Linked DNA regions of Homo sapiens. Changing the gene in region 2 together with the main gene of any one other region gives a genetic interaction. Each region holds a gene or a part of one and is shown on either strand. Other genes may lie near its edges.

What was found. A genetic interaction does not mean that the proteins touch.
Region 1: changes in DUT (region 2) and COPA together harm fitness less than expected from each alone (positive genetic interaction), as found in Homo sapiens cells (one large-scale study listed by BioGRID).

Annotation. Positions count from the first base shown.
Region 1 is NC_000001.11:160,332,603-160,337,770, reverse strand, and holds part of COPA (coatomer subunit alpha), read left to right. Parts: intron 1-2,448; coding exon 2,449-2,529; intron 2,530-4,091; coding exon 4,092-4,168; intron 4,169-5,168. UniProt on the Homo sapiens protein: The coatomer is a cytosolic protein complex that binds to dilysine motifs and reversibly associates with Golgi non-clathrin-coated vesicles, which further mediate biosynthetic protein transport from the ER, via the Golgi up to the trans Golgi network.
Region 2 is NC_000015.10:48,329,124-48,334,888, forward strand, and holds the start of DUT (deoxyuridine 5'-triphosphate nucleotidohydrolase, mitochondrial isoform 1 precursor), read left to right. Parts: upstream 1-2,305; 5' UTR 2,306-2,392; coding exon 2,393-2,672; exon of another isoform or gene 2,673-2,733; intron 2,734-3,073; exon of another isoform or gene 3,074-3,128; coding exon of another isoform or gene 3,129-3,144; coding exon 3,145-3,283; intron 3,284-5,293; coding exon 5,294-5,385; intron 5,386-5,765. UniProt on the Homo sapiens protein: Catalyzes the cleavage of 2'-deoxyuridine 5'-triphosphate (dUTP) into 2'-deoxyuridine 5'-monophosphate (dUMP) and inorganic pyrophosphate and through its action efficiently prevents uracil misincorporation into DNA and at the same time provides dUMP, the substrate for de novo thymidylate biosynthesis.

The DNA of each region.
Region 1 (5,168 bases), on a different chromosome or scaffold from region 2:
GGTTTTTTTGGTTTGTTTTTTGTTTGTTTGTTTGTTTGTTTGTTTGTTTTTTGCGATGGAGTCTTGTTCTGTTGCCCAGGCTGGAGTGCAGTGGCGTGATCTCGGCTCACTGCAGCCTCCACCTCCCGGGTTCAAGTGGTTCTCCTGCCTCAGCCTCCCGAGTAGCTGGAATTACAGGCATGCGCCACCAAGCCCGGCTAATTTTGTATTTTTAGTAGAGATGGGGTTTCTCCATGTTGGTCAGGCTGGTCTTGAACTCCCGACCTCGGGTCGTCTTCCTGCCTCGGCCTCCCAAAGTGCTGGGATTACAGGCGTGAGCCACCGCACCCGGCCCATTCGGTGGTTTTAATTAATTTCTCTGATGACTAATAAACTTGAACATTTTTCCATAAAAAGGGGGATTATCTAGAAAAGTCATGTCTGTGGACCATCTTATTGCTTGCTATATCCAGATAAATGTAGCATTAGTTATAATCCTCGTTGACAAAGAGTAAGACAAGGAGCCCAGCAAATGGTCAGAGTATTCATCTAAAACCCCTATAAGTTTTTAAGGATTTACAGTTTTGGAGCTTGACTTAGGCCATTAAAGGAGTCAAGACATTTTGAAACTAGAAATATGAAAGTTTAAAACACTGAACTCTATAAGGGGAAAAAAGTCAGTTAAAGAATAGTGTTTATGGTATGGTCTAATTTTTATGTGAAACTCTACTGTGTACATGTGTATTTATATGTAGCTGATTGAATAGATAGAGGCAAAGGTATTGGAATACCTTAACTTTTCATGTTATTCTTATTTCCATACATAATGCTTACTGAGCACTTACCTAATGTCAGGCACTGTGTTAGGTGGTAAGGGTATAGTGTTGAGCATGATGGACAAGAACCCTGCCTTTAAGGAACTCAGCATTCTTGTTTGGAAGATCATACTTTTGGATTGTCTGGACTTGTTATAGGAAATGAAATTTTTATAATTTACTGAAGAAAAGTTAAAAATTAGAAATAGTAACAAGCTGGCCCAGATTGATTATAAACAAATATTAAAAAGAAATTTAAAAAAATTAAATAAGAAGAAAAATGCATCTGGTCTCTTATTTTTGTACATTTTAGGGGATTTTCTGAATGAGGAAGATAAGCTATTTTATATTTATGATCCTGGTTTTCATGTCTTCAGTTGTGTTCATTGATGCCTAGTACTTTGGTAGTTGACTCAACTTCACATCTGAATATGATATTGTTTCTCTGCTTAGCTCAGGCTTACTGAGCAATGTAGTATTTTCCATGTAATAAGTTAAGGTCTGTTTGCTTGACAGGTGAGTACAGACCACACATGTATGGGCGTTGTTTGCCATCAAGTTAGGAGCCTAAGAAGCTGATGCCCTATATTATTGTTTCCCTTGGAGTCATGGTATCTATCTGTCCTACTTTTTTTTTTTTTTTTGAGACCGAGCCTCTCTCTGTCGCCCAGGCTGGAGTGCAGTGGAGCGATCTCAACTCACTGCAAACGCCGCCTCCCAGGTTCAAGTGATCCTGCTGCCGCAGCCTCCCAAGTAGCTGGGATCACATCCGGCTAATTTTTTTTTGTATTTTTGTAGAGACAGGGTTTCCCCATGTTGGCCAGGCCGGTCCCAAACTCCTGACCTCAGGTGATCCCCCTGCCTTGACCTCCCAAAGTGCTGGGATTACAGGTATGAGCCATCGTGCCCAGCCTGTCATACTTTTTAAAAGTGATGGGTAAAGCACTTAAGGGGTCTATATTCAAGCCAAGAGCACAATTTTGCAGTAGAAAAAAGAGTTGCAAATCAAGCCCTGGATAAATATCTCCTGCTATTAAATGCAGATGGCTTCTTCCCAAAGAAAGAAAAACTTTTTTTTTTTTTTTTTTTTTTTGAGACTGAGTCTCGCTCTGTTACCCAGGCTGGAGTACAATGGCATGATTTCGGCTCACTGCAACCTCTTGTATCCTGAGTTCAAGCGATTCTCCTGCCTCAGCCTCCCGAGTAGCTGGGACTACAGGCACATGCCACCACGCCTGGCTAATTTTTTGTATTTTTAGTAGAGACAGGGTTTCACTATGTTAGCCAGGATGGTCTCGATCTCCTGACCTTGTGATCCACCCGCCTCGACCTCCCAAAGTGCTGGGATTACAGGCATGAGTGACCACGCCCAGCCTGAAAAACTTCAATAATTTTATCTTTAGCTTTTCCCTAATCCTACCCCAACCCCATGTTGTTTATCTGACCTATATTTTCATTCTTGTTCTTTTCCCCTCAAATCTTAAACAAGGCTTTCTACCAAGGTTCCTACCTATTTAGAAATGCCAAAATACAAATAATGTATATAAATCTATATTTATATACATATTTCTATCTCTGTAAAGATATCAATTTCTCTGAGCCTTTTAGAGGCTCAATAACTATTTCTGTTTCTTAGTTTGATTTGTCTTTGCAGGTTTGGAATTACAAGCTTCGGCGCTGTCTTTTCACATTGCTTGGGCACTTAGATTATATTCGCACCACGTTTTTTCATCATGTAAGTAGTCATGGTGGCGCTAGTTTTGGAGCATTCTTAGTTTCCCCATAGTAATCTTTATTTGATCCTTGAGAACCCATGTTTTAATAATAGAGTTGTTTTTGGAGTGGCTCTTCTACAATCTGTGTGGTATTGTCCTTTCTGCTTTTTTTCTTTCTGCAAAAGGAAGCACTTGGGATTATACTGAATTTAATTTTATTGGATTCAGTGGATTCTATGGGAAGTCATTGTTTCTCTGTAGGGAAAAGTAGGGATTTGATTTCAGATTTGCTGAACCAAAAAACAAAAGTTTGCCAGCTAATCCCATGTAGGGTATTATTAGTAAGTAGTAGGTGTGTCTGGAAGAAGGTCAGACTAAGATGCCATTTTGATCAGCTAACAAACGTTTCGAAGTATTAACAATCATACCCCTCTATCCTAGGATTTTTGGGTCTGGTGGAGGCTGTTCCCTTAGCCAGGCTTACTACTTTCTTTGATCTGCCAGGTAACATAGTAGATTTAGATAGTGAGGTGCAGATTACAGACTCCCAACCTCTGAATCCAGTTGCACCCTGACAGGATCTCCTTATAGTTCTGTGTATTAGCATTAACTTACACTATTCTTTGATTGCCAGTAAATTAAGTCTCTTTAATTAAGTTAGAAAGAATATGATGAAATAAACAATTTACTGGTTGAGTATATATTATTTCTTTTTTTAATTAAAAAATTCTAGGATAGGAGAGAATGAGAAAATTACAGCTTAAACATTTGAGAATGATAACCACTCAATAAGATAACTTATTAAGTAGGAATTATTTGTCATTGCCATAAAGGACTTCCTGAAGACCCTTGCCTAGAACAAGTTGCCATCTACCTGGAAAGTTACGAAAGACCTTATTTTCTTTCATTTTACCAGCTCACTAAATATGTGTGTGCCTTATACTTGCTAAGCTTTGTGCTAAATACTGAAGGTAGAGATACTATCTCTATTGAAAATAGAAATACCATCTATTTTCAGTGTTTAACACAAAGCTTAGCAAGTGTAGTAAGAAGGAAGTGTAAATAAGAAATACTTCCTTTTCTCAACAATCTTATAGACTCCAAAAAGGCTAAATTGTCTTTACATGTTACTTTCTGCTTTGCTTGCTGAGACCTGGGAATTTTTTGAAACTGGACAGAAAGAAGTCAGACAATAAAATAATATTCCCATCCTAGAGTTAAAGGTAGAAGAGTCTTTCACAGGATCTTAATTTACATGATTAACTGTATATAAATACACACACACACACACACACATATAGAAGTAAATGTAAATGTATGTTTCACTATCTGCCTCTGAGAATGTATTGTGCCTCTAACTGGCTTCCATTCTTAAGTCTTATAGGTGAAAGTGCCGAAGTTGAGAAAAGCTGTTAGAGTGGTAGAGAAAAGGAGACAGCTAACCTGATAGCAAAAGCAGCAGCCCCTTTGCTAATGTAGCTGAGCCGTTAAGCAATGCAGTTCTTTAGAGAAAAATGATTACAAGAACCTGATAGAACAGATTTGTTTAATGTTTAAAGCCTTTGTCTGGAATATCTTTCAGGAATATCCCTGGATTCTGAGTGCCTCCGATGATCAGACCATCCGAGTGTGGAACTGGCAATCTAGAACCTGTGTTTGGTAAAGCAGGAGGCAGAGGGCTCGAAAAGAGTCTTCATTTTTCCTAGTTTTTCATAATGAGCTTCTCTTAGAACAATCTTCTCCCTTCTCAAATGGACTATGTCGGCTGATTAATTACTGATTGTATTTGTAGGATGCTTTTAAGTGCAAAATAATAAATGTAGAGGCAATCCCATATATGAATCTGGACTTCCAATAATTTCTTACCAGGAAGAGAAGTCATATAGCCTTTTAGAACAAGAACTTTTAGCTGGTTTTCAATTATTTTCCCATAAAACCTGAGTCAAGGTCTAGACCTTTGTCTTATTTTGTGTTTGGAGCTGGAGCTTTACATAGAACTTTCCATGAAGAGTTAGGGACCATTTAAAGTGATGGCCTTGGCCCGGCGCCATGGCTCATGCCTGTAATCCCAGCACTTTGGGAGGCCAAGGCAGGCAAATCACCTGAGGTTAGAAGTTCGAGACCAGCCTGGCCAAGATGGTGAAACCCCGTCTCTACTAAAAATACAAAAATAAGCTGGACGCGGTGGCGTGTGCCTATAGTCCCAGCTACTCGGGAGGCTGAGGCGGAGAATCGCTTGAACTGGGGAGGCAGAGGTTGCAGTGAGCCAAGATTGCGCCACTGCACTCCAGCCTGGGCAACAGAGTGAAATTCCATCTCAAAAAAATAATAACAATAAAAAATAAAGTGATGGCCTTTAAAAGGGATACCCTACTAAAATCTCACAGATAATTTACAGTATGGATTACTGAGATTACATTTATTTTGATATTTTAAAATATTTTTGAGAGAAGAGCTATGTAATCTTAGTCCTCCTGAAATTAGTAATATTTAAATACTAAAGCATTAGAGGCAAGAAGAGAACTATTGTTAAAATAGCTGACTGGGCTTATTATTATTAGTTCAGAATTGGTAGGATGACCTGCCTTTGTCTCCATAAAAGTAAAACTGGATAAGCATTTATTGAATATGGAGAAAGGTATTTAGTTTAGGAGTCTGT
Region 2 (5,765 bases):
CAACTTCCGCCTCCCGAGTTCAAGCGATTCTCCTGCCTCAGCCTCCCGAGTAGCTGGGATTACATGAATGTGCCATCACATGCGGCTAATTTTGTAGTTTTAGTAGAGACGGGGTTTCTCCATGTTGGTCAGGCTGGTCTCGAACTCCCGACCTCAGGTGATCCGCCCGCCTCAGCCTCCCAAAGTGCTGGGATTATAGGTGTGAGCCACCACGCCTGGCCTCGAGTTAATATTTTTTAAAGCACTTAGAATACACCTGACATAAAGTAGTAACAATGTGTATCTTTGTTAAAATGAGAGAGAAATCCCCAAAATGGCAAAGATAGGAAAAACAACCATGCTTTTCAAGTACTGACTTGCATTTTCAGAAGGTTCAAATTGGCACTAGACTTAGGTAATTGAATTAATCAGCATGACTGATAGGATAACTATAGTCTGATAAAGAAAACACCATGAAGGGCAGGGTGCGGTGGCTCACGCCTGTAATCCCAGCACTTTGGGAGGCCGAGGTGGGCGGATCACCTGAGGTCGGGAGTTCGAGACCAGCCTGACCAACATGGAGAAACCCCATCTCTACTAAAAATACAAAATTAGCCAGGCGTGGTGGCGCATGCCTGTAATTCCAGCTACTTGGAAGGCTGAGGAGGAGAATTGCTTGAACCTGGGAGGAGGTTGGGGTGAGCCGAGATCGAGCCATTGCACTCCAGCAAGGCTCTGTCTCAAAAAAAAAAACAAAAACTATGAAGTAAATTATGGTTGAAACATGTTTAGTTCTTAACTGCAGTATCTTGCATTTAAGGTGTATGTTCATAACAAGTTATATTTCTATTGTCATAAAGAACGTTCTATTAAATGCTTACTGGCTCAGAATCCTATTACTTTTTGCCAGTTAGATTATGGCCGTTTCTCTTTTAGTCTAAAATAAACTCAGCTGAAAAGTAACAATAAACACTTTATGTATACAGATTAACAACAAAAAATAGAAGGTAACCTGCTTGGTGTTAGATATTGTAATAAGCCAAACAAGTAACTTTTGTGTAAACACTGAAGTAAGTGCTTTGAAGAATTCATAAAAGTTTATGACTCTAATTCATGTGAGAGATAAAATGCATATACATCAGAAGATTACACAATGAAAGTATATGGCTAACGACTAATGAATGATATAGTAAGTGTTAAAAGAGATAAGATGGGGCAGAGGTCACTACTGATTGTAAAAAGTTTCATGAATGAAGCGAGACTTTTATCTGGGTCTAGGAAAATGAAGTCGTTACAATCATTACATCTTAGTACAAGCAAGGAATCAAATAGTATGTCTCTCATGTGAACATTTTAAGTAAATAACTGGAGAAAGTACTTCAACAAAATAAGGGAGCAAAATAATGTTGGCTCAAAATGAGGTCGAAAAGTTGCAGGGCTCGGATCGTGTTGCTAAAGGCATAAATTTGGGAGTCCTCAAGCTGTAGCTAATAGTTAACGTCCAGAGAAGGTAGTGTATATTCCATAGCCTCATGCAAAGGAATTCCAACTACGAAGACGAACCAGTTAAGGAGACCGAAAAGGGGGGGCCTGTATGGAAAGGCATAGCAACGAATGTAAAATTTCCCCAATAATACTCTAAAACTGCCCCACAGCTTTTTTAATTTTGAAAATTCAAAACCATTCAATTCAGCTCGCAGATTTTTGTGAGAAATAAGGAGATACTTGCAGCTCAGAAAAAATTATTAACAACTATCTAGAAAGTTACTGCTTTATCCCCCACTGTAAACTATACTACCACGACCCGGGATCCTTGTTCGACTCCTAGCCAAGGGGTTCCCACTGCGTTTCTGTTGGGTTATCCCAAACCTGTGATAGGATAGTAGCGCCCTCCCTGCCTCCGGTCGAATAAACACTACAACGTCTGACACTCGGTGCTGAAAGGAAATCGGGCGCGGTGTCTTGCCCACAGCTTGGGGAGCGGCCCCGGGCGCAATAACTGTCACCGGCGCCGAGATGCGGTTCCGGCGCTTAGGGCGCCGCTAAACTCAGAGCCCGGGAGTCATGGCTGCGGGCGGTGCCGCCCCAGGTAAATCAGTCCAGGAGCAGGGCCCGGGCCTGGCGTACACTCTCGGAAAAATGGGGGCCAGAGCAAACAAGAAGAGCGAAAGCAAGAGGGCTAGGCAGCCAGAGGCGGCAGCAAGACTCAAGACGCCAACGGCGCCGTCTTCCTGGGGCCCCAGGGCCTGCGCCATCCCTGGGCTGCCGGGGCACCGCCTCTCCACGCCCCTCGTCCGGCGGCGGCTGCGACTGCTTCCGAGGTCATGTTCCCAGGACGGGCGCGTCTTCAGGGTGGAAGCCTGGCGCACGTCCGGAGGTGCCGAGGACCCAACCAGCCCAAACTCTGGGGGAAATGACTCCCCTCTGCCCTCGCCCCGCGCTCTGCTACCATTTCCTTACGTCTCTGCTTCGCTCAGCGATGCAAAACGCGCGAGGCGCACGGCAGAGGGCCGAAGCCGCGGTACTCTCCGGGCCAGGCCCGCCCCTCGGCCGCGCCGCGCAGCACGGGATTCCCCGGCCGCTGTCCAGCGCTGGCCGCCTGAGCCAAGGCTGCCGCGGAGCCAGTACAGTCGGGGCCGCTGGCTGGAAGGGCGAGCTTCCTAAGGCGGGGGGAAGCCCGGCGCCGGGGCCGGGTAGGAAAGGCGGGGGAGGGGCTCCGGCCGTCTGGAAGGAATCCACGCGGCTTGAGGCTGTGGGGGAAGTAGGGTGGCGAGCGGTCCTTCTGCGCGCGGGGGGCGGGGGGGGTGGGGTGGTCCATTAGGGTCCCCTGGCGAGGGGGCGGCTTTCTAGTGTGTGAGGGCGACGCCCTAGAAGCTCCCCTTCAAAGTTGGCCCCACGCGCTGAATGTGGAAAGTTGACTGGGACCCAGTAGTTTCCCATCCCAAACCTGCTTTCCGAGAAGGGCTTCAAACCCAAAATGTGAATCCCGCCTCCCCTCTCAGCCAGAACTGTGGACTCGTCCCGGGGAGGGGCGGTGGGTGGGGCGGGGCTGGCGGGAAATTTCGGTTTTGGCGCGCTCCCTGCGGCGACGCTCATCGTGCGCTCTCCTCTTCCCCCGGTGGTCTCCTCGCTCGCCTTCTGGCTCTGCCATGCCCTGCTCTGAAGAGACACCCGCCATTTCACCCAGTAAGCGGGCCCGGCCTGCGGAGGTGGGCGGCATGCAGCTCCGCTTTGCCCGGCTCTCCGAGCACGCCACGGCCCCCACCCGGGGCTCCGCGCGCGCCGCGGGCTACGACCTGTACAGGTGAGCGGGGACCTGCCGGCGAGGAGGCTGGGAAGGGCCGGCCGTCCGCTGCCACAGCTAGAAACAGTCACCGGAGAGATCACAGGAACACACTAGCTATAAATAGGATTTCTGCCTTTTTCGTGTTTAAAATTTTAGCTTTCATCTTTGGCATAAATTAAATAGAGATTTGGGCAAAGACTGCAGAATAAGTAAAATAGCTATACGGTGTCTAGCAAGGCGTTACTTTGCAACGTTTATTGTGCCCTTCCTAAATAGAAGATAGAGAGGAAGGCCCATGGTGGCTTTCGAGTGGCCCGAGGGTGATGCTGTGCTCAATAGAAAAACCAAGGTGAGAGCCTAGATGTGAGCGTGAAAATACCTAAGAAGGATGAACGAAGATGCATCTGCCTTAAAAAGTTATTTTCTATACATTCATCCGGCCCAGGGCGGAATTTGAGAAGGCATCTGAAAACGAAAGGCAGAGCTGCCTGTAATCTACCACACTTTCATCTCTACAGCACGTTTTACCTGTACTAAAAACTTTCCGTATGCTGTTGTATTTAGTCCTCACAACAATCCTTAACTAGATAAGTGTTACTTTTTACACAGGCAGGAGTTTGTGAAGAGCTGAATTGATTTCCCCAGAGGCTTGAAGATGATATAATTTTTTATCCCGAATTTTGGGCTTTTTTTTTTTCATCTGACTACTGTGCCCAGTTCTTAGAACCATTAAGGTAGGAGAAAAGTAATGCTGAGAGGGAAGGAGATTTTATACTAAATCCCAAGCATTGGGATTTATTTTAAAGTATCTCAGATAATTCAAACATGAGAACTATTAGTCTAAGCACAGGAGAAGAGAAAGTAGTGCCTGATGATAGCAACAGAAAAAAAAGGAAAAGGAAAGTAGGTATGGACAATTGTAGCTGGAAAAACTACAGTCTCTTAATTTTGATGAATAAAAGTAGAGTGATATAGTTTGACTAGACCTTTCCAAAGTATATTTTGGAGCACTTTCTTGAGTCCTAGGGGAGTCCTTGATTTAAGATACCTTAAGTAGACTCCTAATAAACACAGGTGACTTTCTGTATACTGAAATTGACATGGAAATAATGGATCAGCAATAAATTAGGGCTTAACTGTTTAAAGAGGGATTTCAGTGAAAGAAGGGGTAGTACTGCTTTACCAGAGTTAATTAAGGTCTCCAAAGTAAACTTCCGGTTCTGCTCATTGTAAAATCTCTTAAATTTCTACCCAGGAGAGGGCCACAGTAATATCAAGAGTAGCAGCATTTGCTATGTGGACTTTAGAGGAATTCTGTTCCTAAGCAAGGTCCATCTCCAGGGGCCGTTCACGGTGATCAGCTGTCTCCCTCAGCCAGGAAATTCATAGCCTAAGCTTGGTAAACTACCAAGCCCTGCCTGACAGATACAACACAGTTCTTTATCTCTTATTTTGTCCACCCGTTTTTCTCCTTTCCTTCTGCATATTTTCCCTAATCACACAGATCATTGTGAGAATAAAATGGGTTAATATATGTAAACCAATTAGAACTGTTCCTGGCACACAGTAAAGGCTTAATCAATGATAGCTAGTATTATTAGTAGTATTTGGCCTTTTTTCTTTGTTCTTTCTTCATTTTTTTCCTTTTCAAACTATGGTTGTAAAGCATCCACCTTTTGAAAGTTTGCCTTTCTGCCCTTTCACGCTGATAAGTACCTCAGTTTCCAATAAACTTTTGTTCAGGGGCAAACATTTACAATGTTGACATCTCTTCACACCACCAAAAATATTCATGGAGAATTATTTTATCTAAAGCTGTCTTTTTAATAATAAAATAGCCACCTCTACCTTCTTCATAAACTTTTAAGATGAATTGGTAATTCATCATAGCAAGGTTGATTTTAGAAACTAAAGTTGCATTAATTCATTAAATACACTGAAAGTAATTTTGTATGCTTGGTCACAAAGAAAATATAAAAACAATTTTATAAATAGATTTGCAGTTATTTTCTTTCAATATTTTCTTAGTGCCTATGATTACACAATACCACCTATGGAGAAAGCTGTTGTGAAAACGGACATTCAGATAGCGCTCCCTTCTGGGTGTTATGGAAGAGTGGGTAAGTCATTTAAGAAACAGGTAACTATTTGTCAAGTTCTCCTTTGTGATAGATTCTTCATGTTTCATTTGGGGTAATAAGCAGGCAATATTGCTTGGGCTGTGTCCTAAAAGAAGCACCATTTGTGATAGCAAATGCACTCTTTGAAAGGCTTTATTTACATCTCTGCTTTGCCTCTTTTTGACCCTTTTATTTTTCTCCTTCCTCACTGGAGCTTTTAGGCTCACACTGGCCTAGAAGGCTGTTCTCAGAACATGGCATTTTATATTATGAGAGTAAAACTTCTGACCTGTTGGTCCCAGAATGTGTAAGCCTACTTAACCTTTTCTTGTTTGGCCATGGGGTTAGGGTAAGGGATACTCTTCAGTGTTGTAGAGGCA